Linked DNA regions of Homo sapiens: region 2 is linked to region 1. The links come from fine-mapping of genetic effects on gene expression. A gene starts in region 1. The other region holds a variant in brackets. All regions are shown on one strand. Distances are from middle to middle. Region 1 holds the start of C1orf174 (chromosome 1 open reading frame 174). Region 2 has its middle 170 kb from the start of LINC02780.

Region 1 (14,549 bases):
GGAGCCTGGAGCAAGCCAGCCCTGCAAAGCCCCACCTGAGAAGCCAGGTTATGTCCACCCCATCAGTTCACACCAGTCAGCTGCTGCGAGCGGGCGGCGGTGACCCTGGCTCTGCACTCAAGTTTAAGGACAGACGCTGCCGTTGTACTTAGCTGCCTCGAAACGCACTGACCTGAATCTGTTCTGGATTCTTAGGAAGCAGCATGACAGGGAAGTCACAGCCGCAGGGACCTCGGTAGGCAAGTGCCCTTCGAGGAAACTGGGGAATCCTCCGTGGGGCGGAGCGAGCCTGGGTGAGCAGAGACCGGCCGTCGGCCATTCCGCTCCCAGGGCCCATGAGCAGGGCAGACCCCTCCCCACCGACGTGGAGAAGTCTCATTTCTGAAACATGCCACCAACACACAGTCTCTACTGTCCTGCATCCCTAAAAGTGGAGTGATGCCTATTCACAGCTCACTTTCAAGTGGCTGAGACACTAGGCGGGAGAGCCTGCAAGCCCCACCCCGCCCTCCGGCCGCACCCCTGCCTTCCCGCCACACCCCTGCCTTCCCACTCACTCTTTCCTGCATCTTCCCACGGCCTTTGCTGCCCCTAGGGGGCCCTCATGGCCTTTACTGACAGCCCGTGACGTCTCAGTAGCTCAGATGAAACCTGTTTGATTTGAAAGCTGATGATTTTAGTTCCTGAAGGCCACACATGGGAACCGACCTGGACTTGAGGGTCATCGTTCCCAGTCCTGCCTGGGTCCACGTCCTGCCAAAATGCGATACCCGTGAGAACTGGGCAGGGCCCCACAGTGTCTCCTCCTGGGTGGCCTTGACCTGTGTCGGTGGCAGCCGAGGACGGATGCTTGGGTTTCAATGAAGGCAACTGAACACGCACAGCCGCCAAGAGAGGCCGCGGGGCGGGGGAACCTCAGAACCCCGTAATCTCTGCCCTGGGTGCAGACAGTTCTTCAGGAATTCCTCATCCTGCACATGGCCTGAGCATGGCTACACGGCCACAGAGGGAAAAACAGCTGCCCATCAATGACTAGTACGTTTGCGGGAAAATCCATTTATCTGTTGGCCCTGCCATGCCCCTGATGTTTGACCAAGTGAGCCTACGGTGCGCTGGGCACAGGGGCATCTGCGAGTGGGAGGCAGACGTGGATCTGCAGGGAGGGACCTGTCCACATGCCCGCTCCCAGCCTGAACCTCACTCTGCCATCAGCCCGATCCCCAGCCGGTTTCCACTGCCAGCGGCCCCTGCTTGAAGGCAAGGGAGCTCTCAAAATAGGGCTTTTCATCTTGGTGTTTTTCTTCCAGACTGCCCAAAGGTTCTCATAAAATGGCAATTTTTTTTTTCATCTAGTTGGAAATTTAGCCTTCTCCAGGCTCTGCAAATCCCAGGCCTTTTCTTCAAAGGACACTGCAGCGTGATCCCAGCGGAGGGCTGGCAGCAAGGCACAAAGTGGCCCATCGCTCGGAGCTTTTCTGCTGGATGATGTTGGAGTTCACGATTTGAATGTTCCCCCCTGGTGTGCAGTTTCACTGATACCCAAATGGAGCATGTTCTTCATACAGTCAGGGCAAGCGGAGACTACGGGGTTCCCGAGGTTCTCCTGCCCTGCAGCCTCTCTCTGCAGCTGTGCACATGCACCATGACTCCCCATGGAGGGTGCAGCTCCACCCTGGCGGGAGCCACGCCCACAGCTCCCACAGCCCTGCCTGTGCACTGCCTGCAGTGCTCTTTACAACGTGTGTGCAGAGAGCCCAACAAACTTTTGATGAATGAAACCGGTGGACTCCACCAGGAGACAAGTCCTGGCTTCCGCTGGAGCATCTCCACCGGGCCTGCGTCGGTGAAAAGCAGAGGCAAGCGAGTTCTCCTAGGTAGACCTCCACATCCTGCCTACTTACACAGTGATGGTTAGCTGCCATCAATAAGAACAGAAGCACAATTCAATTTTTAGAACACACACAATTAGGTGCCCATAAAAAACGGAAGCCAAAAATTAAAAGACAAATGAATGAGAAAGAACAAAACAAAACCACAATATTGAGAAACGTTAAGGAGGACTCAAATTTCCTGGCAAGGGGGCAGAGAGGGGCCAGGGCTGGGTGTGAACCTGGGAAGACACGGCCAGGCCGGGCTGACCAAGCCGGGTCAGGCCATGGGTCATGACCGCCTGGAGACCACAAGGGCGTCGGGCTGGGTCAGATGCCATGGACCCACCACTGCCTCCTGATCCCAGCACGTTGTAGGATATATGAAGCAGAAAATGGTCTACTCTACTCAAACATCGTCATGTCACAGACTACTGATCAGTCTACAAAGCGGGCTACAAGAGTCCAGTGGATGCTCAGCCTCCAGTGAGGGCCCCAGGGGCGCAGGCATTGGGCCCTTCCACCGGCACCTCCTTCCCCATCTCTGCACGGCGCCAACAGTTCCTATGTACTCTACACCTGATTCTGATGCCACCAACTCCAGAAGAGACCCTCTGCCCCATGCTGGTGGCTCCCTGAAGTTTCTGGGCATCTTCCAACTGCCCCAGGGGTAGTCCTGTGAGTCTCTCAGGCACCCTAGCAGGCTCAGAGCCTACATCCTTCTCCGCTGTGTCCTTCATTCAAGGCAGGACCTTGGCACATGTGCACGGGGCAGACACGGGAGGAGCTGCGATACTTTCCAACAGCAGACGGCTGTCCTACCACAGGGTTATTTTTGCCCAGCTAAGTCGGGTGGACCGAGAGGATAGGAGAGGGTGGGCTATTAAGAAAACATTAGTTTAGGTCAATTCAAAGAGAACTTTTTTTTTTTTTTTGACAAAGTTTCACTCTGTCACCCAGGCTGGAGTGCAGTGGTGCGATGACATTTTAAAAGCATGCTGCAAGCTTTTTTTCCCCTGCCTTCTCCCTCTCTCTCTCTCTTTCTACCTATTACTTCTTTCTTTTAATTATAAAAGGCCATATGCAAGAGAGGCCCTGTCATCATACAGGCCACCATCTGTTGGCAGGAATGCAATGTGCTCTGGCCGGGGTGGCCTCAGTTAACGGGTCTACCGACTGCTAGTCAGTTGAAAAATCTCTTCAACTTTCTCACTGGCCCTACAGTGTTTGTCAAAGGCAAATACTGAACTGGGGCACAGCAGTGTTTTAAGTCAGAAATTTGTGGTATGGGCAAGAATGCAAAGTTTCCTCCAATCCACAATCCTCAAGTTCTCTGTGTGCGTCTCGCCCCCGGCCAGCCAGCCAGCCAGCCAATGTCCTCTGGGTATCACCAGCCTCCGTGAACAAAACACGGACCCTGCCTTCCAGGGGCGTACAGTTCAGGTGGGGGGCCAGCCACGTACAAGCCTGCACAGACTTCACACGCCTGCCACCATGGGGAGTCTCACTGTGCCCTGACCTGGCCGGGTGGGGGCACAGCTAATCAGGAATAAGAACAGAAGCAGACACAGCGAACCCGGGAAGCTGTGGTGTGGAGGTGGCTTCGGCCAAGCCTGGTTTTGGGGAACCCAGGAAACCGTGGTGTGGAGGTGGCTTCGGCCGAGCCTGGTTTTCTGCTCCCTCCAGGGTCTCCTGCAATTCCACATGGCAGCTTGAGGTGGAGCGGGGGAGAGAATTCAAGATTGGCTCCTCTGCCCACGCCAACACCTCCCACCTCGTCAGGAGGGGTAGCCTGTCCAGACAGGGCTCCACTGCACATCCAGCCTTGACTAGGAGGCTCTGTTTCCCCCGGGTGGGCCTGAAAGGGGCCTGCATCCTACAGGATGAGGGAGGGAGAGGGGGCCCCAGCCACTTCCTCCCAGGATCCTCACCCGACACCCCCAGCTCTGTGCTGTTGCCCATGTGGCCTCTCCCCCGTGGCTCCCATCACACTGCAAACGTACAATTCTGTGTGATGATTCCATGCCTGGGCTTGCGCCTGGCCCAGTCCCCAGAACACAGTGGAGCTTGATACCTTGAGTGAATGAGTGGATGCGCCATGCTCTGGGATAGCACCGGAGAAACGGTCCTGGCCTGCCACGGGGTCCTGGTAGAAGAGTGCAGAACACTAAAAAAGCAGCAACCGGCAGATTGAATGTAGGGGGCGGGGGAGCATCCAGGAAGGGCCCCCTGAGGACAGGAGATATAAGCTGAGTTGAGGTTTAACAAATGGATTAGCCAGGCAAAACGTGGGTTGGGGAGCTGGGGAAAGAAGGTTTTCAGGCACAGGGAAGTGGGGAAGAGGCTTTGCAGTGGTCAGGAGCTGAGGGAGGCACTGTGGATAGCAGAGGGGCAGGGGAACAGGTGCTGGGACTCTGTGCGGCTGGAGCAGGGAGCGGCAACGGTGAGCAAGCTCAGAAGCCCTTCCGCACATTCATTGGACAAACACCTGCTGGGCACCCACAGTGTGCCAGGCACCATGCCAGGACTTACAGGCCACTCTAAGACTGTGGCTCTGGATCCCAGAAGCAGGGGATCACCCCAACAGCTGTGGGCTGCCCAGGCCAGAGGAAAAGGAGAGACCAGCCGTGAGGCTTCAAAGTCTAGAATTAACAGCAACCGGCATCTGACAGGATGTGGGCAGGGAGAGAGAGACATTCACCAATGGCCTGGGTGTCAGGCCTTACAGCTGGGAGGCTGGAAACCATGCTCATCCCAGACCTGGGGAGAGGACAGACAACATTGGTGAAGGGAAGGAGAGTGCCCTTTGGGATGTTAAAAGTCCACATGGCTCGGAGCCCAGAGCCCCCATCGGGCGGGCGAGGCCAGGCAGTGAGGCATTTACATCAACTGGCACCAACCACAAACAAGACAGGCAAACACCAGCCAAGCCCCAGTGGATGAAAACTTTGAGCTCCCAAGGACTGGGAAATAAAACCACTGAACCAAGCTTATTATGAAATCAATCTCTGCGAAAATGGGACAGGCTAGGTGTTTAACAAAGTATCGCTCGCTCTCATTTTTTTCTGAACAGCTGGCAGCGATTATATTAAGTTTCCATTTCAAACGCATTTCCTGCCAGTTACACATTTGTCTCCTCCCCTTCTGTACAACATGGATAATAACACGGGAGAAGCGCAGGGCTAGGAAGAGAGAGGGTACAACAGCCAGGTAGGACATGTGTGTGTGTGTGTACACCAGGGCTGCAAGCATCTTCACTCACTGCCGAAAGCAAAACCCCACGTGCAGTCTAATTTGAGGGCTCCACCTAATTACCAAACGTCACACTTCTAAAGAGAGTGGAGGCTGCATAGAGCTCAAGCTGGCAGGATCCTTAAATACTCTCCCTTCTCAGGCACTAAAAGGAGGCATCAGCTGCATGTCTGGGCTTTGAGAGAGTCATACCGTAAGAGAAGGCACACTGATGCTTTTGGAAGAGATTATGAATCACACCCTGCCTTGGAACAGTGCACAGAGGGACCCTGAGCAGGCCATGAAGCCACAATGCAATGCAGTTCACTTTTCAACCTTTGTAGTTTAAGTGGAAAACCTAATGCTTCTGACAAAACTGCCTGATTTAAATGTTCTCACTTGAAAAAAAAAATAATGATTTAAAAAGGAAATAAGACTCCCATTTATTTGCAAAGCACAGTACGGGCTGCTGGGTGCACCCTGCGCCCGAGCACCTGGGAGCCAGCCCTGGACTGCGCAGCCACCTGCGGGCGGAGAGGGGAGGGGCCAGGTGTCCTCGGCCTCTGATGTGGCTTCCACCCTGCGCCCTTTTCTGAAGACACACATCCTAGAGCCCAGAGAACTTGAGGGCTGGAGGGTTTAAGGCAAGGCTGGATTTCATTTCTATGTTGAAATTCTTAAGAACAGAACAGTGTGCCGAGCGCGGTGGCTCACGCCTGTAATCCCAGCATTTTGGGAGGCCGCAGCAGGCGGACCACGAGGTCAGGAGATCGAGATCATCCTAGCTAACACGGTGAAACCCCGTCTCTACTAAAAATACAAAAAAATTAGCCGGGTGTGGTGGCGGGAGCCTGTAGTCCCAGCTACTCGGGAGGCTGAGGCAGGAGAATGGCGTGAACCCGGGAGGCAGAGCTTGCAGTGAGCCGAGATTGCGTCACTCCACTCCAGCCTGGGCGACATAGCGAGACTCCCGTCAAAAAAAAAAAAGAAAAGAAAAGAACAGTGGGCCTGGCACGGTGGCTCACGCCTGTAATCCCAGCACTTTGGGAGGCCAAGGTGGGCGGATTATTTGAGGTCAGGAGTTCGAGACCAGCCTGACCAACATGATGAAACCCCATCTCTACTAAAAATACAAAAATTAGCCAGGTGTGGTGGCGCCTGCCTGTAATCCCAGCTACTCAGGAGGCTGAGGCAGGAGAATGGCTTGAGCCCATGAGGCGGAGGTTGCAGTGAGCTGAGATCGCGCCACTGCACTCCAGCCTGGGTGACAGAGCGAGACTCCGTCTCAAAAAACAAACAAACAAACAAAAAAACCCACAACAGAACAGTGGTCCTCAGCTTTACAAACACCTCCCTCAGCGGCGGCCAAAGAGGACGCATCACAGCAGCCCAGGCCTGCTAGGGGCGTGTTTGCTGGAGGAGGCGTGGCCGCCGTGTGTCCATCCAGACCTGATAGGGCGCGGCCATTGGAGGAGGCGTGGCCGCTGCGGGTCCACCCAGGCCTGCTAGGGGCGTGGCCATTGGAAAAGGCGTGGCCCCTGCGAGTCCACGTTGGCCCCGGAGAGTAACGGGACGGCGGAGGGGTCATTTCCCGCCTTGCACGTAACGGGGGACGAAAACCGGCCCCCAGCCCGACGCCGGACCCTGGCCTCCTGGGCCCACCGACGGCCTCCACTAAGGCCCCCTCCCGCCCGCAACGTGGGGGACAGCTGAGGCCACTTCCCGGGCGGGCCACCCCAACCCAAAGCGGCATGTCGCGGGGCAGCACAGCCTGCGACAAGCGCGCAAAGCTCCCCAGCGGGACCGCAGCACGGGCAGGCCTGGGAGTCCCTCGCGCTGCTCAAGGCCGCTAACCGGCACTCAGAAACCAGCGCTCTGCGGCACTGGAGAAAGCACTTCCCGCCCTCCTGCAGGCTGTTAGCCAGGGGATGCAAGGGGAGGGGCCCCTCACGGACGTCCCGCCCGCCCCTCTCAAACATGGCGGCCACAGGCGCACCAAAGGAAGAGCCCCTCACAAACATGGCCGTCCGCCCCTCTCATACATGGCGCCAAAGAGGCTTCAAGGGAAGCGCCCCTCACGAACATGGTTGCCTGCCCCTCTCAAACATAGCGGCCACAGGCGCACCAAGAGAAGCGCCCCTTACAAACATGGCCGTCTGCCCCTCTCAAACATGGTGGCCAAAGAGGCTTCAAGGGAAGAGCCCCTCAAGAACATGGTTGCTCCCCCCTCAAGAACATAGTTGCCCACCTCGCTCAAACATGGCGGCCACAGGTGCACCAAGGGAAGCGCCGTTCACGAACATGGCCGTCTGCCCCTTTCAAATATGGCGAACACAGAAGCTACAAAAAAAGCACCCCCCGCAAACATAATCTCTCAGGCCTGCCACGGGCGTGGGAAACATAGCGGCTACAGGGGTGCCAAGGGACGCGCCCTCATGAACATGGCCGGCCACAGGCCGACTTCCTGCTCCAGTGTCCCACCACTGGCCCAAGGCCTGTGACCTTCGCCCGCCGCTTACGAAAGAGCCAACACGGGGGGGGGGGGGGGGGGAATCACATGACGAGGGTGCTGCACTGTGATTGGCTGTGCTGACGTCGGACGCCGCCGCGGCGCGCTCTGCAGACTCCGGGTCGCCGCTCCGCCGGGACGCGTTGGCCGGGGCGCGCGGTGCTTGGCTGCGGTGCTCACACTCATGAGGAGCCGGAAGGTGAGGGCTGGGTCCCGGCAGCAGCTGCGCCGGGCAGGGCGGGGACTCTGGGTCACCTGCTGTCTGGAGAACCGGGGCGGGGTCACGGGGTGCCTGTGGCCTAGGAGCGGCCTCCGCTTGGGCCTCGCCCCCGGCAGTAGTTGGGGGGCTCCAGGCCACGCTCCCGGGAGAAGGAGGGCTGCCAGGTCACGCCCCTGTGAAAAGGGGGCTCCGGGCCACGCCCTCGGAAGAAGTGGAGCTCACAGGTCACGTCCCCGGGAGAAGGGGGCTCCCAGGTTACCCACCCCCGCAGAATGGGGCCTCTGGGCCACACCCCCGAGAGAAGGGGAGCTCCCAGGCCATGCCCGCGGGAGAAGGGGGGCTCCGGTCCACGCCCTCGGGAGAAGTGGAGCTCACAGTTCACGTCCTGGGCAACAGGGGGCTCCCAGGTCACGCCCCCTTGAAGGGAGGTTTCGGGCCACTTTCCTAGGAAGGTGGGGCACCCTCTCCAGAACTGGTTTCAACTCCTGGTAGTGCTAGATGCTGCAGAGCTGAGTTTGTGCCCCTCAACTGCTGCCACTCCAATGGACGTCACACAGCAAGTGACCTCAGCTTGGCCCCATCTACTGAATGTGCTAAAAGTGGGGTGATGAGGGATCCACCAAGAGGGTGGTGAGGATTGAAGGGGGGTGCCAGTGTCTGGCAAGGGGCAAGTGCTCATTGCGTGGGTGTAACAGTTAAGGCGAAGGACCCTTTTCACAGTGGACCCGGCGCGGGTCCCGGTCCACTTGGGAGGCTCTGAGCTGCATGGAGGCTCTCCTGGTTTGTTCAAATGGAGTGGCCACTTGTGAATTCCAACTCCTTTTACTATTTTTATCTTTGAACCAAAACTTGTCTCCTGTAGGCACATATACTTGGATCTTTTTTAAAATGCAGTCTGGTAGTTTCTGCCTTTTGATTGAATTGTTTAGCCCATGCACATTTAATATTATTGATACACTGTAGTTAGGTTTACATTTGCCATTTTACTTTTTCTTTTCTTTATACAAGTCTGTCTTTTTCTTCCCCTGTTCCTTCTTTAAGTGGATTAAAGTGAATATTTCCTAATGTAGCATTTTAATTTAATGATTTTTTTTCCACAACTTTTTTGGGTTTTTTCCAGTGCTTTATGTTTTACCGTATACAGCTTAATCTTCATATTCTCCATATACATCTTAAGCTTCAGATTTGTACTAGGTTAATTCCAAGTGATACAGAAATGTTACTCTTATATGGTTATTTTTGTGGTATTTTGTTATATGTATTACATCTGATAATGTTACAAACTCAACAGTACTGTGTTATCATTATTACTTTCTGTCTGTGGTCATTTCCTTAGCCAGCAGGGGTTTGCTTTCACCCACTTTGTTTTGTTATTGGCAAATATAGTACATGTCTGTATATATTATACACATATTACTGTATACAATTGCTTTTTAAATTAAGAGAAGGAGGTAGAGGAATAGGCATTTAAACTATATAAGAACATAATTACCTTTACTGGTGCTGTTTTTGTGTGTGTGTGGTTTTGAATTACTGTCTGGGGTCACTTGCTTTCAGCCTGATGAACTTCTTTTAGTGTTTCTTGTAAAGTGAGTTTTGTTGTTGTTGTTGTTGTTGTTGTTGTTGTTGTTGTTTTTGCTTTGAGACCAGAGTCTCACTCTGTTGCCCAGGCTGGAGTGCAGAGGTGTGATCTCGGCCCACTGCAACCTCTGCCTCCCGGGTTCAAGTGATTCTCACCTCAGCCTCTGGAATGGCTGGGATTACAGGAGGCTGCCACTACGCCCGGCTAATTTTTGTGTTTTTACTGGAGACAGGTTTTCACCATGTTGGCGAGGCTGGTCTAAAACTCCTGACCTCAGGTGATCACTGCCTCAGCCTCCCAAAGTGGTGGGATTACAGGCATGAGCCACCATGCCCAGCCCATTTTTGAAGTATAGCTTTGCTGGATATAGGATTCTTGGTTGACAAGTTTATTTGAGCATGTTGAATATGTTTGAATATTCTCCATTGTTTCAGTCAGTTCATTTATTGAGGTTCCCTTCTAAGTGGCTTTCTTCTTGGGGCTTTCAAGGTTTTGTTCTCTTTCAAGATTTTGCCTTTGATCTTTGTATTTTTACAGTGATGTGTCTGTGGATCTCTTTGCATGTATCCTATTTGGAGTTCTGTTCATTAAGATTCCTGGATATGGGGCCAGGCACGGTGGCTCACGCCTGTAATCCCAGCACTTTGGGAGGCTGAGGCAGGCGGATCACAAGGTCAGGAGATTGATACCATCCTGGCTAACACAGTGAAACCCTATCTCTACTAAAAATACAAAAAATTAGCGGGGCGTGGTGGCGGGCGCCTGTAGTTCCAGCTACTTGGGAGGCTGAGGCGGGAGAATGGCATGAACCTGGGGGGCGGAGCTTGCAGTGAGCCAAGATTATGCCACTGTACTCCAGCCTGGGCGATAGAGTGAGACTCCGTCTCAAAAAAAAAAGATTCCTGGATATATAGGTTAATGTTTTTCTGTAAATTTGAGAAGTTCTCAGCCATTATTTCTTCAAATATTTTTTCTGCTCCTTTCTCTCTGCATTCCTGGTGGTTCTTATTTTGTGTATGTTAGTGCACTTAATGATGTCCAGCATTTCTCTGCAGCTTGCTTTATTTTTCTTCGTTCTTTTTTTCTCTGTGTTCTTCAGCATGCATAATCTATCGATCTGTCTTCAAGTTTGCTTATCCTGCCAGTTCAGTTCTACTATTAAGCCCTTCTAGTGAATTTTGTTATTTCAGGTTTTGTACTTTTCTACTCCAGAATTTCCATTTGGTTTTTAAGTAATTTATCTTTATTGATAGTCTCTTTGATGCAGCATTATCTTATGTTTCTTCTTTATTCATGATCTTGATATTGTTTATCATGGCTACCTTGGTCCTTTATATATGTATAAATCCAACATCTGGTCACTCTCACAGACAGCTTCTGTGGCCTGCTTTTATTCCAGTGTATGAGCCTACTTTTCTTTTTCTTTGAGTGCTTCATAATTTTTTGTTGGAATTATGCCTTCATAATTTTTTTGACATTTTAGATAATACATTTTAGCAATTCTGGGTACTGTCCCCAACCCTGGGGCTTGTCATTGTTAATATGCTTATTTGTTTAGCAACTGGGTAGATTGTTTTGATAAAGTATATTTCCCCTGCCACAGTGTTCAGCCTGTGATGTTGCTGGTGGGGGGTGGCACCCAGCCACTCTGGATGACAGTGGTTTTAGTGAGGTCCTTTTCCTCTTTCCCTGACCACATCCAGCTGTTGAACTTCGCTAATGCCAGGTTATTGTGCTGTTCTCAGCAACAGCCTGGGCATAAGTTGCTCTACAAACTAATCCAATCAAATTGTGGCTTCTTCGAAGGGATACTTTCTAAGGTCAGTGTTTGGTTAGTTTGTTCTGTGTCCAAGAGGCCTCCTCCCAGCCGTGTTAGTCTCTGGTTCTCTTCTGCGAACTGGTTGGCCTACAATTTGGCCTATTGCTTGATTCTCCACTGCCTCCACCCCCTTCGTCACAGCATCCACGGTACTTGAACAGCTCCCTTAGGCCGGAACTTCTCCACATTCCATGGCAGGGAATTTGGTGCCTTTGGGCAGGTGTAAGAGCTGTCTGTTTAGTTGCCTGCCTCTCATCCCAGGCAGAGCCTCTGAGCCAGGGCCTGCAGCTGAGGACAGTAATGGGCTCCTCTCTGAATAGGGGCTGGGGGAGCTAGCAGCAGCCTGAGATCCTCCAAATGTGTCTTCCCCAGCCTGGAACCACCTCATATCTAGGACGGGGTTGATGGGGCCCCAGTCTTCTCCGTTCACTGGGCGGAGCCTCTTGCAGAGGCTTAAACCGTACTGGTAGAATGGAGCCAAGGTGAAGCCTTCATTCTACAAATAGGGTCTGAGCAGAAAGGAGGGCCCCTCTTCTCAATCCTACTCACTCAGGACCTGGTCTCAGTCACAGGTGGGATGAGAGCAGAAAGGGAAGCACTGCTATCCTGCCTCTCCTGGGAAGACACCCCGCTGCCTGGGAGCTGGGGAGGTGGCCCTGTGTTCTTGGCTGCAGCAGGATGGAGCTCAAGTGCCACAGACTCTCCGTGTCCTTACCAAATGTATGTAGGTGTTCTGGAGCAAGTGTTTCTTCATTTGCTGGGTGCCCATAGGACCATTTCCAAAGGCTCTCTAAATGGCTGTTTTGGGACTGCTCATTACTCTCTGAGAAGGTCAGTGAAGCTCCTCGAGCCATCATGTTGAAGTCAGTCTCGGCCAGCCCTTTTGGAGAAACCATGTTTGTGCTTCTGACATACCAGTTATTAAACAATCTACTGGAATGAGGAGAATCTCAATGATGAGAAAGTCTTTCCTTTTTTGGACTGTGGGAGCAGTCCAAGCTGCCCAGCTGCAGAGCAGGAATCTGCAAGTGAGACTGTGACCAATTCTTGACATTTTGGAGTTGACACCTTGGAGGTGGTTAATCCATGACGAAACTGAAGCTAAGCCGATCTCATGTTTTGACTCCTGTCAATCCGGAGAGGACAGCAAATGGCCTGCTCAGGTGTCTGTTAACAGCCAGCGCTTCCAGGCCCACCAGATCCTCAGGTGTCTGTTAACAGCCAGCGCTTCCAGCCCAGCAGATCATCTGGCTTTTCTCTGCAGAAGGGGCCAAAAGGTCCACCTGATGAACCTGTTGCACGCGAAAAGTTCAGAACCACTGCTGCCAAGATGCTGACAGAAGCCTTGAGAAGCACCTGCTGCGGGAAAAGACGTGCAGGCGTAGAACACAGAGCGGGTGGCAGCTTCTTCAGTTCAATCCCCACCTCAGGCAGTTGTTGGGGGTCATATCTAGGGTGAGCTGTGGTGATGGAATAGAGATTTGGAAGCCAGGCATCACTCGTATAACCTCATAAGCTCCTTACCCAAGTTGTCCTCATCTGAAATGGGTGTGCCACTCCTTTAAAGCTGTTCAGGCACCGAGCTGGGCTCCCCACACAGCATACTCCAGCACAGAGCAGCAAAGCGCCCGGAGGAGGGCTCACAGCAGGGAGGAGAGGTGGGGCAGTGGCTTTCTAGGTCAGAGATGTCTTTTCCCTACGAGGCACGTGATGGCGTTTTAGGGAGATGGGCTTGTTTAAGACCCAGTGGGAGGATTTTGATGAGAGATGTTTATGGCAACTCTTAGCAAGTTCTGTAACCTCTGTTGCCTCAGTCCCCTTGGTGTAACTGTGACCATGACGTCTGCCGGGGCTCTCAGCAAAGCCCTGCCCTTGTGAGAGGACGGAGGCGCAGCCCCCGGTGTGCTGTGGTAGCAGGCACTTCACCCAGCCTGTGGGCAACTGGCGTGTCCTGTGTACAGCAGGCGGGCGTCCTGGCCTCCGGTGGGCTGCTGCCTGCTCTTCTCCCTCCTGTTTCAGACACACACTCTGACTGCCACAGTATCACAGGACCTTGGAGCTGCCACCCCACAGGGTTTCTGGAGCTGTCTTGGGCTACGGGGTGCATGGCTGAGACAGATTATTTCTTTTTTTTTTTTTTTTTGAGACGGAGTCTTGCTCTGTCACCCAGGCTGGAGTGCGGTGGCGCAATCTCGGCTCACTGCAAGCTCCGCCTCCTGGGTTCACGCCATTCTCCTGCCTCAGCCTCCCAAGTAGCTGGGACTACAGGCGCCCACCACCACGCCCGGCTAATTTTTTGTATTTTTAGTAGAGACGGGGTTTCACTGTGTTAGCCGGGATGGTCTCGATCTCCTGACCTTGTGATCCACCTGCCTCAGCCTCCCAAAGTGCTGGGATTACAGCCGTGAGCCACCGCGCCCAGCCGAGACAGATTATTTCTGTGTTTTATTTTTTTGTTTTTTTCCTTTTTTTATTTCTCTTATCTGCTGTTGGGCAGGGCACTCTTCATCCGTCCCCTTCTGGGTTCCAGTTCTAGGGCCTGTTGGCAGCAGCTCTTGGGCCTTTCCCGGCCATGTCAACCTGCATTGCTCCTGTTTGTTGCTTCTACTACTCACACTCATTCCTTTCGAGTTTTCTAAGTGCAGTGTGGTATTGTGGACTGGATTCTGGAACAGAAAAACGGTTCATGGAGAAACCGATAAAATACAAATAAAATCTATAGTTTAGTGAAGAGTACCGTAATGTCACTAATTTCTTAATGTTGACAATGTCCTGTAGTTGTTTAACATTAGTGGAAGCTGAGTGAAGGCTACATGGCAACTCCCTGTACTATTTTATTATTATTATTTTTTCAGAGACACTGTCTCACTCTGTCACCCAGGTGGAGTGCAGTGGTGCAGTCATAGCTCACTACAGCCTCAGACTCCTGGGATCAAGTGATCCTCTCACCTCAGCCTCCCACATAGCTGGGACTACAGGTGCACACCACCACACCTGGCTAATTTTTAAAAAAATTTTTTAAAGATGGGCTTTCGCTGTATTGCCCAGGCTGGTCTTGAACTCCTGGGCTCGAGCGATCCTCCTACCTCAGCTTCCCAAGTAGCTGGGATTACAGGTGTGAGCTATCACACCAGTTTCTTTGTACTATTTTTTGCAACTTTCTGAATGCCGAAAATTATTCCTAAATAGTTATTTTAAATGTTATGTCTTTAATTAATTTCTTTCTTGTTATTAGAGGAGTTTGCTTTGCATTCAGGATAAAAGAGAGGTGGACCAGTTTGTTAATATTAAAATTTGTGAGACAGTCGCTAGCTGCATTC
Region 2 (15,582 bases), 250 kb before region 1:
TGGCCTCCCAAAATGCTGGGATTACAGGCGTGAGCCACCACGCCCAGCCCTGAAGTCTCTTTATGGAGTCTTTGCTGAGAGCAACAGCCCCGGATCCTAGGTCCACTCTGCAGAAGACCTGCCTCAAGGGGCACCCTTCTCTCCTGCAGGAAAAACGAGCACCCACAGCCAGCTGCCATTGTCACAGTTCCTCCTCTGACCCGCCTGCCCCTCTTCTGTGCCTTCCCAGGACTCTGTGATGACATCAGCCCCACCCGGATCATCCGGAGTCCTCTCCCCGTCTCAGCATCCTTTACATCATCACACCTGCAAAGTCCCTTTGGCCACGTAAGATCACGTATTCACAGGTGCCAGGGATTAGGATGGGGACATCTTTGGGGACCATTATTCTGCCAATCGCAGGATCAAATGAGGTCACTGGGGAGAAAGGGCTGGCAGAGGAGAGAGAGGCCTGGAGGCCTGGGCAGCACAGGTGAGCTTAGGGCAGGCGCCAGCCCCAGACAGAGCCCTTGGGTAGGGGCAGCCTCAAGAATGATGGGCCTTGGAGGCCACGAGGGAGGAGTGACATCATTAGCTGAGATGCAGACTGACCAGGGGACATGGCAGCCTGGTGACAGTGCTGGGGGAGCAGTCTTAGTGGAGGGTGGGAAGGCAGCAGGAGGGAGCACGTAGAAGATGAAATAGGAAGAGTGGCAGGTCCAGGCACCTCCTTAGAGAGCATTGTGGGGGTGCCACTGTGGAATGGGTGAAGCTGGGGGTCTCTGCTTTCATTAGACACTCCCACACTTGTCTTGGTTCCAAAGACACTGCCTGGTCTCTGGGCTCCGTGCAAGGACCTGAACAGCTCCCAGCACTCCCCTCTGCCCCCTCCTGCCTCCCAGCTAGAATTCGCGAGAGCAGGCTCACCATGAGGGAGGGGCCCGTGAGCACAGCCGTCTCACCCGGCCTCCTGCACTGGGACCACAGCGGACATTAGGCCTGGTCGGAGTCAGGAAACAGTCTCTGAGCTCTTCCCTGGCTCCAGAGGCCAGGACGCAGGTGGCCACCTCAAATGTACCTATGGCCCTGGGGGTCAAAACCCCTGGGGTCTCATCTGGCGGCATCACACTGGATGTGGCCCACGGGAAGCTCTCCCCAAACCCTCTTCCCCACTGGGCTGGTGCCTGCTCACAAAAAGCCCTTTCAGAATCTTCCTACTGCCCCAACACACTCAAGAGGCAGCTTCCAGGGTCCACAGTCCAAAGTGATTTGCATGCGATTTGTTCCAGCAAATGCCTGAGAAGCTATTTAATATCTGAGGAATAGATTAGGACCCAGGGTCATGGAATGTAAATATTCTAAATATAAATACTTTGGGCCAGGCACAGTGGCTCAGGCCTCTTATCCCAGCTCTTTGGGAGGCTGAGGGGAGCAGATCGCTTCAGCTCAGGAGTTAGAGACCAGCCTGGGCAACACAGCAAAACCATGTCTCTACAAAATTACAAAAATTAACTGGGTGTGGTGGTGGGTGCCTGTAGTCCCAGCTACTTGGGAGGCTGAGGTGGGAGGATCATCTGAGCCCAGGAGGTTGAGGCTGCAGGGAGCTGTGATCGTGTGACTGCACCCCAGCCTGGGTGACAAAGTGAGAGGTTTTCTAAATAAATAAATAATAAATAAATACTTTGATCATGGAAAATAGTTGCTATACGACAATCACAGACAACCGAAGTGATTTCGTAGAATCCAAGTCTTTTTTACCTAATCTAGTTTTTTTAAGTATGGAGTCTGACTCTCCTTGAGGGCTTCTGTAAAGTCCAACCTGTGACTCACAAGTGAGACAATTGCATCAAACGAAACATCAGGCTGGGTGCAGTGCCTCATGACTGTAATCCCAGCACTTTGGGAGGCCAAGGCAGAAGGATCACTTGAGGCCTGGAGTTTGAGACCAGCCTGGAATAACATGGCAAAACCCCAGCTCTACAAATAATTTTTTTAAAATGTGGGCAGGCCCAGTGGCTCACACCTGTAATCTCAGCACTTTGGGAGGCCAAGGCAAGCAGATCACTTGAGGTCAGGAGTTCGAGGCCACAGTGAAACCCCACCTCTACTAAAAATACAAAAAAATTAGCCGGGCATGGTGGTGCACACCTGTAATCCCAGCTACTCAGGAGGCTGAGGCAGGAGAATCGCTTGAACCTGGGAGGCGGAGGTTGCAGTGAGTCAGGATGGTACCGCTGCACTCCAGCCTGGACTACAGAGCCAGACTCCGTCTCAAAATAATAATAATAATAATAATAATAATAATTAACCCAGCATGGTGGTGGGCGCCTGTGATCCCAGCTATTCAGGAGACCGAGATGGGAGGATGGCTTAAGCCCAGGTGGTCAAGGCTGCAGTGAGTTGTGACTGTGCCACTGCACTCCAGCCTGGGCAATGGAGCCTGTTAAAAACTAAATAAATAAATAAATAAATCTTTTAAAAAAAAAATAAATAAAAGAAAGAAAGAAAAATTAGGTGACAAGACAATAGTGTCAGCCCTGAGTGCACAGGACTGATTTTTTCCCAAATGACTGTGGTTGAGAGTCTAGGCAGCAGCCACCTGGAGATGTGACTCAATAACAAGAGAAAATCTTCTAAGTGAACTTTTCCTTCTTATTGAGATAGAATCATTGAATTTAGCGCTTTCTTCTTAAAAGAGGAGGTGTTGTTTGTTTGTTTTTCCTTTTTTCCTATTGTGCCAAGGCTGGAAAAGTGGAATCCTAGCATCTTTTATATGGGAAAGGAAATGTTAGCCACTGGCCCTGGTGCCTGGTTGACTCCTAGGAACTGAACGCTTGTGTCCCTCCAAAACCCATATGTTGAAACGCTAATCCCCATGGTGACGGTGTGAGGCACTGAGGCCTTTGTGAGGTTAGTGTTAGATTAGGTCATGAAGGTGGAGCCCGCATGAATGGCGTGATGGAGAATTTTCTGTGTCAACTTGACTGGGCTAACAGGTATCTGTCCAGGTTGCTGGTAGAGCATGATTTCAGGGTGCGTCTGTGACTGTGTTTCCAAAAGCATTTGAGTCAGCAGACTGCATTAAGAAGATCCATTTCCACCAATGTGGATGAGCGTTACCCAGTCCATGCAGGATCACGAGGGCACAACAGGTGGAGAAAGGGCAATTTCATTCTCTCTTTCCTCTGGAGCTGGGACACACATCTTCTGCTCTCAGACATTGGAGCTCCTGGTTCTCAAGCCCCACACCCCCTGAGATGATGCCTCCAGCCCTTGGCCTCACGCTGGGGGTCACACCATCAGCTCCCCTCATTCTCAGGCCTTCAGACTCACACCGAATCACACTGCTGGCTTTCTTGCATCTCCAGCTTGTAGACGGCCTTCTATGGGACTTGTAAGCCACCATAGTCGTGTGTGCCAATTCCCCTCATAAATCCCCTCTCCTGTTTATCTGCATTTCTCCTATTGGTTCTGTTCCTCTGGAGATCCCTGACTAACACAAATGGGATCAGTGCCCTTATAAGAACAGGCATGAGAGCACTTGCTGCCCCTCTGTCTCCACTCTCGGCCACGTGAGGACACAGCAATTAGACAGCCCTCTGCCCTCACCAGAACCGGCCATGCCGGTACCCCAACCTTGGACTTCCAGCCTCCAGGACTGTGAGACATTCATGTCTGTTGTTTGAGTCCCCAGTGTACCACTCTGTCACAGCAGCCTGAGGCTGAAGCCATGGCCGACCACCAGCATCTGGTCATGCCTCATTGGTCCCCCAGAGCAGCTTCTGGCCCAGAGCTCTGTGAACAGCATCCTGCTTCATGGGGATGCTAGTGCCTTTTCTGTTCCATGCACTGGGCTGCTGGGTTAGGCTCTCCCACCTCCCTTGAGGACCCCATGAGCAGCTGTGCGATAACACACTGGGAGAACCGGAACCACCGTGAGAAGTGGGCCGGGGCAAGACGTGGGAATGTCGGGGTAGGGCAGGACATCCAGGTTGCACCACTGCCGATGTGGGGGGAGCAGCAGAAACAGCCCAGAGCAGCAAAACTGCATCAAGAGGGGGTATTGGCACTGTGAGGTGGCTTCCCTTTCCCTAGACCATCCCTGATGGTTCCTCTGCCTCCTGGTCCCCAAGCCTGATGCCCAGCCCTGGGGCAGGGACTCTGGTCCTCACCCTACCTTCGTCCTCATGTCTCCCTGGGAGCCAAGTGCAGAAGAAGCCCTGCCTCCCCTTTCCAGGGGGTCTTGGGAATGTGGACAGTTCTCTCTGGTCCCCAGAGTGCAGGTTCTGGGGCAGTTGTTTAAGAAGGGTGAGAAGCAAAGGCCGGAATGAACGCTCACCCTGCGCTGTAACATGGGGACTGCATGGTGGGGGCTGGCATTGAGTCCCCACTCCTCTTTCACAGGCACCTTGTTCCTCAGTCCCCCTCAGGCAAATCCCAGCCCTCCTTTCCCAACAAGACACTGCTCTAAAGGACAGTGACTCAGGGCCCCGCTGCCACGGGCTGTCGCATCCCCATCACCCCTCGTGTCTGCTATCGCTCCTGGATTGGGGAGGGGGCCTGTCACTGGAGCACTGGGCTCAGGCTTTCCTGGCATCCTGGGGGAATGACACCAAGCAGCTCAGAGGAGAGATTTTCTGTCTCTGGTTCTGCGTCCATTCTGAAACACGCTGCGAGTAACATGAGAGGCAGTGTGCAGGTGCTAGGGCCTATGGGTTACAGGGAGCTGTGACCAGCTGGGAATTTCTGAGGCATCCCTGGGCGTGAGCCCCACAGGGACATCACTGCCTCTGTAGAAAGGTGGAGAATCGTGTCGAGGGAGGTTGCTGGGAGCATGCAAAGGCCCCGCATCCCGTGGGGGGTAACCAGGACCAAGTAAGGGAAGCCCCACGCCCCCACGGGGAAAGGGAGGCTGATGTTTCAGATCCCCCACAGTGTGCTAAGCACGCGTAGGCTTTCTCACTGAATCCTCCAACACAGTGACTGCACCTTATCCATTGTCTCGTATGTTCCTGGCACTCAGCGGGGTGAGTCCCATTTTTCAATCTTCATGAAAATCACTGTGAAGAACCCACTGCTGTGCCCTATTTTCTGCTGAATGCACAGAACTCAACAGCCTTCCCTGAAGGAACACGTGGACCCAGGTGAGTGCACCTGTAGGCTCTGCCCCCACCCCACAAGTCCCCTACAGTCCCCTGAAGCTACAGGCTGGATAGTGTCTCCTGAGGAGTCACTACCTTGGAGCCCCAGCCAGACTCAGAAGAAAATCGAAGGCTGGGGGGCCGGGCGCAGTGGCTCATGCCTGTAATCCCAGCACTTTGGGAGACCAAAGCAGGAGGATCACGAGGTCACAAGATTGAGACCATCTTGGCTAACACGGTGAAACCCCGTCTCTACTAAAAATGCAAAAAATTAGCCGGGCGTGGTGGCGGGTGCCTGTAGTCGCAGCTACTCAGGAGGCTGAGGCAGGAGAATGGGGTGAACCCGGGAGGCGGAGCTTGCAGTGAGCCGAGATCACACCACTGCACTCCAGCCTGGGCGATAGAGTGAGACTCCGTCACAAAAAAAAAAAGAAAGAAAGAAAAGAAATTGGAGGCTGAGTGTGAGGTTCTAAGAAGGCACCACTGGAAAGCGGAGTGAGACCCTTCAGGTCATGTGCAAAGGCGTTTATGATGAAAATAATAAAGGAAATTGAAGACAACATTCATTCCCCTCAGCTTTTTCTTTTTTTTTTTTCTTGAGATGGAGTCTTGCTCTGTCACCCAGGCTGGAGTGCAGTGGCGAAATCTCGGCTCACTGCAATCTCCACCTCCCAGGTTCAAGCAATTATCCTGCCTCAGCCTCCCGAGTAGCTGGGACTACAGGCACGTGCCACCGTGCCCGGCTATTTTTTTGTATTTTTAGTAGAGATGGAGTTTCACCGTGTTAGCCAGGATGGTCTCGATCTCCCAACCTCATGATCCACCTACTTTGGCCTCCCAAAGTGCTGGAATTACAGGCATGAGCCACTGTGCCCGGCCTCACATCAGTTTTTAAAGGAAAGAATCCAGGCCTTAAAGAGTTAAGGAGTGAATAGATCCGGGGTCTCTTCTGAGGTGATGAGAAGGTTGGAAACTAAAGAGAGCTGATGGTGACACAAGGAATGCACCAAATGCCACTGAGTTGTCCGCTTGAACACGGTCAGTTCATAACACATGTGTTAAGCTGCTTGATTTTGCCATTCCACAAATATACACAGATCAAAACATCATGTTGTGCATTGTATGAAGAATTTTTATTTGTCCATTAAAAATAAATTTTAAAAGTGTAATAAAATGGTGAATTGTATGCTACATAAATTTTACTTTTTAAAGTAAACGTTTTTCCTTTTAAAAAAAGAGTTAAACAGAAAAAAGTTGAAGACCTGCCCCAGCCTCCTGGGGATTGACAAGAGTGACTTTCACAGAGGGGACCTTGTGCTTCCAGAGCACCAGGCACCTGGTGTGGTGCAGACCCTGGAGAGCCCCCAGCTGAGGGCCCGTCCCCTCTTGCCGCTTCCTCTGGGCCAGTCTCTGAGCTCCCATTTTTGCAGCCTGGAAGGAGGAGACCTCTTTGCTATGCAGGTTATAGGAGATTTCCAAGGAAGGGAAAGAAATCAGAGAATTCACTCTCTGGTCAGAATCCAAGGCTGGAGGATGAAGGTGAGAACTGCTGGCCAGCCACAACCCTCGGGCCTAAGAGCTGGAGGACACAGTCCCCAAACCCCTCACAGGTCTTATCCCTGCCCATCCTGGAGAGAGACCAGCGAACCAGCAGTCGGAGCCAGGAGTCTGTGGGCGCAGAGGGAACTACCTGCTGGAAAGAGCCTGTCTCACTCAGCCTGACGTCGCCCTGCCCTGACGCTGGGACCAGAGGGTGTTCGGGCAGCTCTGACCTGGTGGCCCTCAGAGAGGGAGCCTCCTCCCCCACTCTCCAGGCTTTTCTTGGTGCTCATGCTGCCCCCTGGACACTGTTCTGTGTTAGATCACTCACCTCTGTCCCCAGGAGCCTGATTATCATTCACAATGAGAAAGAGATTCAAAATAAAATGCCTCTTATTATGCCCAATCAACCTTTATGGGCAGTCAATTGGCCATAAGCAAATCTTTCCTCTCCCGGGTCAGCCCTACGTGTCTGTGAATGAAGGTCTGTCCCGTCAGCCTTTTGTGAAACTCTTAATACTTCAGGGTTTGTGTAAGCGGACTGGGCTTTCTCATGGTTCAGGCCTGTGCGCAGCTTTCAGGATAAATGCACACATCGCACACACAGACCCAGAGAGGCACACGTGGAGAGATACATGCAGATGCATGCACACACACGGCTTCACTCACCTCTCGCACACACACGCTCACACATGCATGCTCTGATCCCTCCAAAGACCACTCCTGCCACTTCTGTTGCTACCGCACCCTAGTATTTCATGAAAAGCAAACAAATTGCATCTCCTTGATTACATTTCCTGATTTCTTAGAAAGCAAAATTGTAGTAATTGGTTTACATTAAGCGTCATGCTATTTGGGAGAGGGAAATTAAATAGAATACCGTTAGAGCTGATTCGTAGGCAAACATAGCTAAATAAAACAAGCCTAAACAACCATCTTTACAGGGCAAATTGCAGTTTCAGTAACTGCTGCAACAAAACGCTATTCCACGGTGTCTGGGCGGTAGGATGGTAATGGGGATTCCAGGTCCGGGAGAACTTTCGGACCCTCTGGACAGTCCTGTGAGGCCTCAGATGGCTCAGGAGGCCCACCTGGTGCCTGGGGTTCGGAGGCACTAACAAAGGTTTCAGGTTCTGAAAGTCAGCTCTGCAACCGCCACTCCTTGCCAGGCTGCAGGCTCAGCTCAGGAGGTGAGTGGTTCAGGACTGTGGCTTGCCCATGGTGCTGAGTGTGACACGTGTAACCTTCAGAGCCCTCCACCCCTCTGCCACAGGTGTGCGGGCACTAGGCTCAGGAGCACCCCTGGGGGAGCTGTGAGGATGTGGCAAGGACTCCACACCAACCCCTCCCACAGTCCTGCAGCCTCTGCCACCCAGGACCAAGTCCCTGACCGAGTCCCTGAGTGTGTGTGGCATCCCTCCCTCTCGGCTCTATGCTCCAGCGTCATGTGAAAATTGGGGCCTAATGGGGTTCAAGGAGAAAACATCAAACCACATCTATGGTTGGCAGAAGTCCGTATGGGAGAGGTCAATTCCAGGAGCAGGTGTTTAACTTGGGACCTGCTTAGCTGGCCTAGGCTCTGTCAGCACCTGACCATTGCGGTTCATAAGGACCATGAGCTCTGGCAAC[A/G]GGGAAACAGGGGAAGGGCGGGCCCAGCCCCATTTTCCCAGTTTTAACACAAAAAGTCCTGCATCCCAGGAACCCCCTCAGTCCCAAATAAAGCGAGATGGTTTGGGGCTCTATTTGCCACCTTGATGGAGGCTGCAGAACTGTCCCACATCAAGGCTGGGATTCTTTCATGAATGACAGGGCGGTTCCAGGGCACAGGGCAGAACCGACCCCACCATGCACAGCTGGGTCTTGGAGCAGGTTCTGCTGTGAAACATCCACCCTACCGGCAGATCATAGCTGAGCACAGACCCTCTCTCCTGCAGTGCACTCTCCACCTGGAGGATCCTGCCGAGGAGGGGGCACTCTCCACCTGGCCGATGGGCTTCCGCTTATCTCTCTCTCTGGAATGCCCTGGCCTCCATTTGGAGCTGGTGCCCAGCCAAGCAACTCCTTGGACATAGAAAATAAGAAGAAAAGCAAGAGAGGGGACCTTTAGGTACGTTTAAAGGCCCTGAGCAGTGACTGTCCTCTCAGTAGGCTGGAGCCAGCTCCCAGTCCCACCCTGCCATTTGGTAGCTGTGAGGCCTGGCGCAAGTCGCTGGGCCTCTGTGGGCATCTGTGCTTTCTTCTTCTATACATGGGACAGGTTTGTGTTGAATGAGGAACATTGCACTGTGTCTGGCACCTAATATCAAGCAGAGAGAAGGGAGAAGCTACCCAGCACAATAAACCAGTTTTTTGTTTGTTTGTTTGTTTTTGAGATGGAATCTCGCTCTGTCACCCAGGCTGGAGTACAGTGATGTCATCTCTGCTTACTGCAACCTCTGCCTCCTGGGTTCAAGTGATTCTCCTGCCTCAGCCTCCCAAGTAGCTGGGACTACAGGCACCCACCACCACACCCAGCTAATTTTTGTATTTTTAGTAGAGACGGGGTTTCACCATGTTGGCAAGGCTGGTCTCAAACTCCTGACCTCAGGCGATCCGCCCACCTCAGCCTCCCAAAGTGCTGGGATTACAGGCATAAGCCACTGTGCCCAGCCAAATAAACCACTTTTTAGGGAAAAAAAATGGGGTGGGGGTAGAGATTCCACAATGGCTCCTGCCCACCTCGTCTTCCCCGGCTGCAGATTCAGCGAAGGGAGGTGCGGCCAGCGAGGCAGGGGCAGGTGGGGACACGCAGCTCCTGTTCCCCCTTCATGGCCCAGTGACTTTGAGGGCTAAATCCACCCATGTCTCACTGCTCCTCTCTCCCCCACCTCGTCTGGGTGTCTCGCTCTATGATCTTCTTACCCGTGGTTCTAATTATCTCTTTGTATCTCCTGTGAAACCAGCGCTTTAGAAGCTCTGCGCCACCGCTCCCTCTCTTGACGGTAGGCCTGACAGTTGGAACAGAAGCCCTTGGAATGATGAATCTGCTTTATTAAAAGTCCTTTGTTTAAAAGTATCAGCCCCGCCTTCCATGTCAAGACACAGCCTGCTCGCAGAGGAGAAAGAGCCAGGCTCACGGCACGGAGGGAAAAATGTCTTCAAACAGCTATTCACGTTTTTAAAATTTTTAACTGGATGAAAGGTGTTCTCCACTACATTTCCTCCCTCGAGTTGTTTTAATTCATTCGACCTAAGTTGCTGTTTAAACCAGGGGATAGCGTCCCAGAAGGGAAACTAAGGGGCACACACAGGGAACCACGGTGATTCCTCCACATCCTCACTCAGCAGCCGCCACCAAACACCAGGGACCGGCCAGGTATCAGGCCCTGTGCTGGGCAGAGACCCAGGGTAGAAATCAGAGACAGCCTCTGCACTCACTGGAAGCTGAGTTTATGCTGGCGATCAAGGGAGAACTCTTGGGGGAAGCCAGTAAATCCCAAGCTAAGAAACAGGTCCCAAGTGGCTGATACCCCTCTGGTCATGATAGAAGAAGATGCACTATAATGAAAACAAAGACAAATTCTAGAGGAAAACTTTCGGAACTTGGAGCTTGTAAGATTCCCATGGAATATACCATTTCTGTGGTAGATTCATTTGTAATTTTTTTAAAAGAAGAATCATGTTGGCAGTATAAATTTGATCTTCAGATTCATAGGGGAAACAGGAGTTTCCATTTTTCAATCACCCTGCACCACCCACCTCAGCAGGGCCCAAGGCCTCATACCAGTCCCTTAATGAACATCACAACTCAGAAATCCAGCTTCCAGGCCCTCCCAGTCTCACTACTCCATTTAAGGCACCTACAGCTCAAGCGTTTCCTGTTCCTTGTTAATTTCTAGCCCAGGGCCATTCCAAATGTGTGCGTGTGTGTGTGTGTGTGTGTGTGCAGGCGTGCATTCATATACTCCACACTGTGTATCTGTTGAAAGGTTATAGTTCACCTGTTATTTCTGTGCATTTTTAGTAGGGGACACGCCACGCTACCTCAGCCCATCATTTTCCTGGAACCAGACATTTGGTTATGTAATTCCAAATGTTTTTACAGAGATGATGCATTTTCCCATTTATAAAAAAAAGATGTGTTCTCATGGCGATTGGAGAATATAAAACCCTAAAATGGAAAGCGGAGGAGTGACTAGAAATTAAGCTTTAGAAACTGAATACATGGCTGTCAATGGTACCAACGTCTCTTTCGTAGTGATAGGATTGATTGAGAAAATCCTCCACGGTGGGTTAGAGGATGCTAAAGAAACATTGAAATCTTTGAGCTACAGACTCAGATGGCCAAGAGGCTCCAGAGTGGCAGGCCTGGTAGTGAGTGGAGCTGCAGCAATTGCACCTGCTGAGGGTGAGGGACAGACAAGTGACAGAACCTAAACTAGTGCCCCGGCCCCCACCCAGACTTTGCAATCACCCATTGAGTATCCTCTGTCCGGTGACTTGAGATCAAGACCAAGGAGAAAAGAAAAGTTCACATGTCAAAAATATATCCACAAGCTTCGACCAAACGATAACTTTGAAACATGCCTTTCTGTCTCTCTTGGAAAAGGATTTCTGAATGTCGGAGTGAGATTTGTTACCTGATGATGCCTCAGGTCTGTGAAGACTTCTCTTCCCAGGTGAGAGGACCGAGGGCTTTGATAAACAGCGGTTCTGAGTTGCAAAATTATTAGCAAGATGGTCGGTTTCCACTGAAATAAGAGTTTTTGTTTTAATTTATATTGTAATGAAAGCTTGTAACAGTACCATACCATAAACACAAACAGCACAATCTTATAAAAATTTCATCTTTATCTATTTTGGGGAGAAATAGTCCTGTCTGCCTAATTGAAGCATCTGTCATTCTGACATTAAATAGTGCATGCTTGATCTTTTTATTATATCGTGGGACATTTCTCACACACTGTTAAATTGAAATAACGCTGCTCACTTGGAGATAAAGGGACATAATAGGTATTTTATAATGAGGGGGACAGGATTTATCCTGAATTCAGGCCGAGAACTGTTTTATGTTTTTCCTGGGGTTTGCTGCCCTAAAGGGAGCTTTGGCTCGTCGTAGCTCTCAACACTCCAATAAGAGAAGAATCAAACGAGAAACAGTTAGACAAGCATTAGAAATGTGATTCAGGCAGTCAGTCATCTCTGCACTCTGGGAACAGCTCTATGGGCAGCTCAGGTGGGCGGGGCCTGGCCCAACCACAGACAGCATGTCAGTGTTGAAAACTAAATCCCATTTGCTATTTTTTAATAGTCCAATCTCTCCCCTGGAGCATCCAAGCCTTTGTTTCAAAATATTTGATTCAACTCACTCTATTTCACTTCCCTGAATAAAATCATAGACTTATGATTCCATAGTGTTCATGAAATCATAGACTTTCAGTGCTCAAAGACTTTAAGTCACTTACTCAAAGCATCTCACTAGTGTCTGAGGACTCTGTAGTCACCCTACAAAGCCATCCTCCTTCCAGGATTTAAACATTTCCAGGGTTAGGAGTTTAATCAAGACTTCCCAGTTTAAATACTGACTCCTCTGTGTGATGCTGGGCAGGTTTCACAGCCTCTCTCTGCCTCAGCTTCTTTATTGTCTATAATATAGCGATGGTAATAGCACCCAATAAGAGTACTAATACTTCCTTTATTATTTCCAGCACAACCACTCTGACTTTCATTTCTGTTAGTCATAGCTCCTTAAACCTCTCTGTGCCTACTACTAAGCCAAGGGATCCACCATGAGAGTCATGGTGATGATAGTGATGGTGATAATGATGACGATTATGATGATGATGGTGGTGGTGATGGTGATGATGGTGATGATGGAGATGGTAACGATGGTGATGATGATAATGGTAATGATGGTATTGGTGATGACGGTGATCACAGTGATTATGGTAAGGATGGTGGTGATGATGGTAGTGATGATGGTGATGGTGATGGTGTTGGTGGTGATGAAGATGGTGATCACAGTGATGATAGTAAGGATGGTGGTGATGATAATGATAATGGTGATGGTGGTGGTGTGGTGGTGGTGGTGGTGGTGATGATAATGATAATGGTGTGATGGTGGTGGTGTGGTAGTGGTGGTGGTGATGATGATGATGATGTAATGATGATGGTGATGGTGATGGTGGTAATGATGATGGTGATCACAGTGATGATAGTAAGAATGGTGGTGATGATAATGGTGGTGGTGGTGGTGATGGTGACAATGATGTAATGATGATGGTGATGATGACGGTGGTAATCATGATAGTAATTACCGTGATGAAAGTAAGGACGGTGTCTATGATAGTGGTGATGGTGGTGGTAGTGGTAACGATGATCATGGTGATCATGTGATGACAACACCCAGCCAACATTCATGGGGCATTTACTAAGTGTTCACACTGTTTTCAATGCTTTGTACATATTCATTCATTTTACCCCAACAGCAGTCCTATGACATAGGGACAATAATTGCAAATGAGAACATTGGAGCTTATGTTTGCTCAAGGCTGCCTACCTGGCAAGGGTCTGACTGGGATTCCAACCTAGGCAGCTGCTCCATCGATCAGCCCTGCACACCTTCTCCGTGTTGTGCAAACCAAAAGGCCCCCTCTTCTCCTGGGTGCCCAAGGGCAGAGGCCAGAGTGCTAAGGTGACGCTTCCTCTTGGCATCCCAAGGAGAGGAGACCAGGTGGCTCACATTAAGTAAATTCAATTCCAAGGACAGCCTGGCTGCCAATGCTTCTCTCTCGACACAGTGAGTTACACAAAAAGGATAACAAAGCCAATGACCATGAATTTCCTGAACTATGTTCAGTAGAAAGAGGTTTATTTTATGTAGGAAATGCCTACATAAAAGATGGGGTTTATTATATTGTTGATACCAAATCCTGAGTGGATGATGCATATATGAGAAGATAAATGGCTCATATAGTCTATTTATGTGTGAAGTATGACATGCCAGCTCACCACTGGGCCCTTCTGTTGGTACATTCTGCTATCTCGCTCCCAAAATTTCTGCCCAGCCCCATTCACTGACCTGGGAGTCAGCAGTTAGATGTCATAGGCCCAAAATATTTAAAGTCTTTCTTTAAATTGCAATTTTAAGTGTTTAAATTATACCAACATCTCTTTTAGCCCTACTCCTTCTTATGTAAGAGCTACCTTTATATTCTCTGAAAGGAATCAAATGTAAATTTCCCTGAACCATGAACTGTGAAAACAGCATCAATGTATCTTAGGTCTAATAGAGAGTGAGAGAAGGATTTTGCTTGTTTTTCCAGTAACCTGTGGGTAGCAGAGGTTTTCATAAGATAAGTCATTGACTTGGAGTTTCAGAATAATCACATTAAGAATCTGACCCTGAAGACTCTTTAGCTGGGGATAAGGACTCTGTGAAATAGAGTAACAATGACAGCTTTCACCCCATGCCACAGCCAATAGAAGCCAGGCCCAGATGATACGCCCAGGAGGTCATCACATCCAGGGGCAGAATTCCACCTGAGAACTAGGTCTGTGCTGTGACTACAAGAGGCCAGAAACCGATGAGAGAAGTTTTCCCATGCTTTCCCCGTGACAACACCAGACACACACATACACATGCACACAGGCATGCACACACACTCTTACATGCACATGTATGTACACATACGTCAGCATTCATGTGTCTGTGTGTACACACACACACACACGCAAACACACATGCAGGCTCTCGTGCTGTGTTCTGTCTGCACCTGCCTGCAGCTAAGGAGGCTGTGGTTGCCTTTCCCTACACTCATGTAAAGGGCTCCTCAGCCACTTCACTCTTCCTGGGCCCAATGGCACCAAGTCCTCGGGAGCCAGAGTGAGTTGGAGAAATGATCGGGGGAGGGGAAAGGATATTTGTTGTGACTTTGGCTTGGAGCACTGAAGCATCTCAATAATGTGTTGGGAAAATCAGCGGAGCAATGGGTCACGAAATCCCATCTCTCCTGGCAGCCAGGATGGAAATGGGAAGGGCTGAGCCAGGCGCTGTGGCTCACGCCTATAATCCCAGCACTTTGGGAGGCCGAGGCGGGCAGATCATGAGGTCAGGAGATCGAGACCATCCTGGCTAACACGGTGAAACCTCATCTCTACTAAAAATACAAAAAATTTTCTGGGCATGGGGCAGGCGCCTGTAGTCCCAGCTACTCGGGAAGCCGAGGCAGGAGAATGGTGTGAACCCGGGAGGCGGAGGTTGCAGTGAGCCGAGATCGCGCCACTGCACTCCAACCTGGGCAACAGAGGGAGAATCCATCTCAAAAAAAAAAATGGAAATGGGAAGGCTCTGCTGGCAGGGCTGCAGGGCTACCAGGAGGGTGGCAAAGTGCTCGTTGTACCCCGAGAGGGGACCTGGAGGCTCCAGGGTAAACCAGACGCTGCTAAAGTCGGCTCCCTCTGGAGGAAGGTTCTCTCGCAGGTCACTGGGTGCAGCAAGGACACAGCAGCAGCACCCCCATTGCACACCTCAGCCAGGGCCCAGAGTCAGAGCCTGGACAGAGGATAGAGTTGGGCAGCATCAGAAAGCCCAGCTTCCTCTGGAATTTCTGATCCTGGCCATATTCACTTCCTGTGGTTGCTGTCACAAATTGCTGCAAAATTAGTGGCTTAAAACAGCACAAATGTATTCTCTTACAACTCTGGAAGTCTGAAATGTGTTATGCGAGGATGAAACCAAGGAGTCCGCAGAGCTGCCTTCCTTTCTGGAGCTCCAGGGTGTCCGCGTCTCACCTTCACCGTTTCCTCGATACTGCGCACGTTCTGCTGCTGGTGGCCCCTCCTCCATCTCCAGGGTGCATCCGTCCACCCTCCACTCCACCATCCCTGCTCCTTTTCCTGACTCCATCCCTCCTGCCTCCCTCTTAGAAGCACTCCTCATTCC

The links. PIP is the estimated chance that this variant, and not a neighbour inherited with it, causes the effect. A credible set is the group of variants that fine-mapping cannot tell apart.
Region 2: its variant is the best candidate, but not a certain one, in a credible set for the expression of C1orf174 in follicular helper T cells (Schmiedel 2018, PIP 0.77).

The regions. Positions count from the first base shown.
Region 1 is chr1:3,893,430-3,907,978 of GRCh38, reverse strand. C1orf174 (chromosome 1 open reading frame 174) reads left to right here and starts at 7,707. Exons shown (of 4, transcript NM_207356.3): 1 at 7,707-7,807. The coding sequence starts at 7,793. LINC01134 (long intergenic non-protein coding RNA 1134) reads right to left here and starts at 7,575. Exons shown (of 4, transcript NR_024455.1): 1 at 7,348-7,575; 2 at 3,943-4,014. RefSeq lists silencers at 478-537, 6,627-6,806, 7,887-7,956 and enhancers at 7,007-7,266, 6,906-7,475, 7,476-8,044, 8,045-8,615.
Region 2 is chr1:4,141,779-4,157,360 of GRCh38, reverse strand. No RefSeq gene overlaps it. Among named protein-coding and RNA genes, the nearest start is that of LINC02780, 170 kb to the right of the region's middle. RefSeq lists enhancers at 4,279-4,778, 4,779-5,280. The variant A/G (reference allele first, on the strand shown) is at 8,289.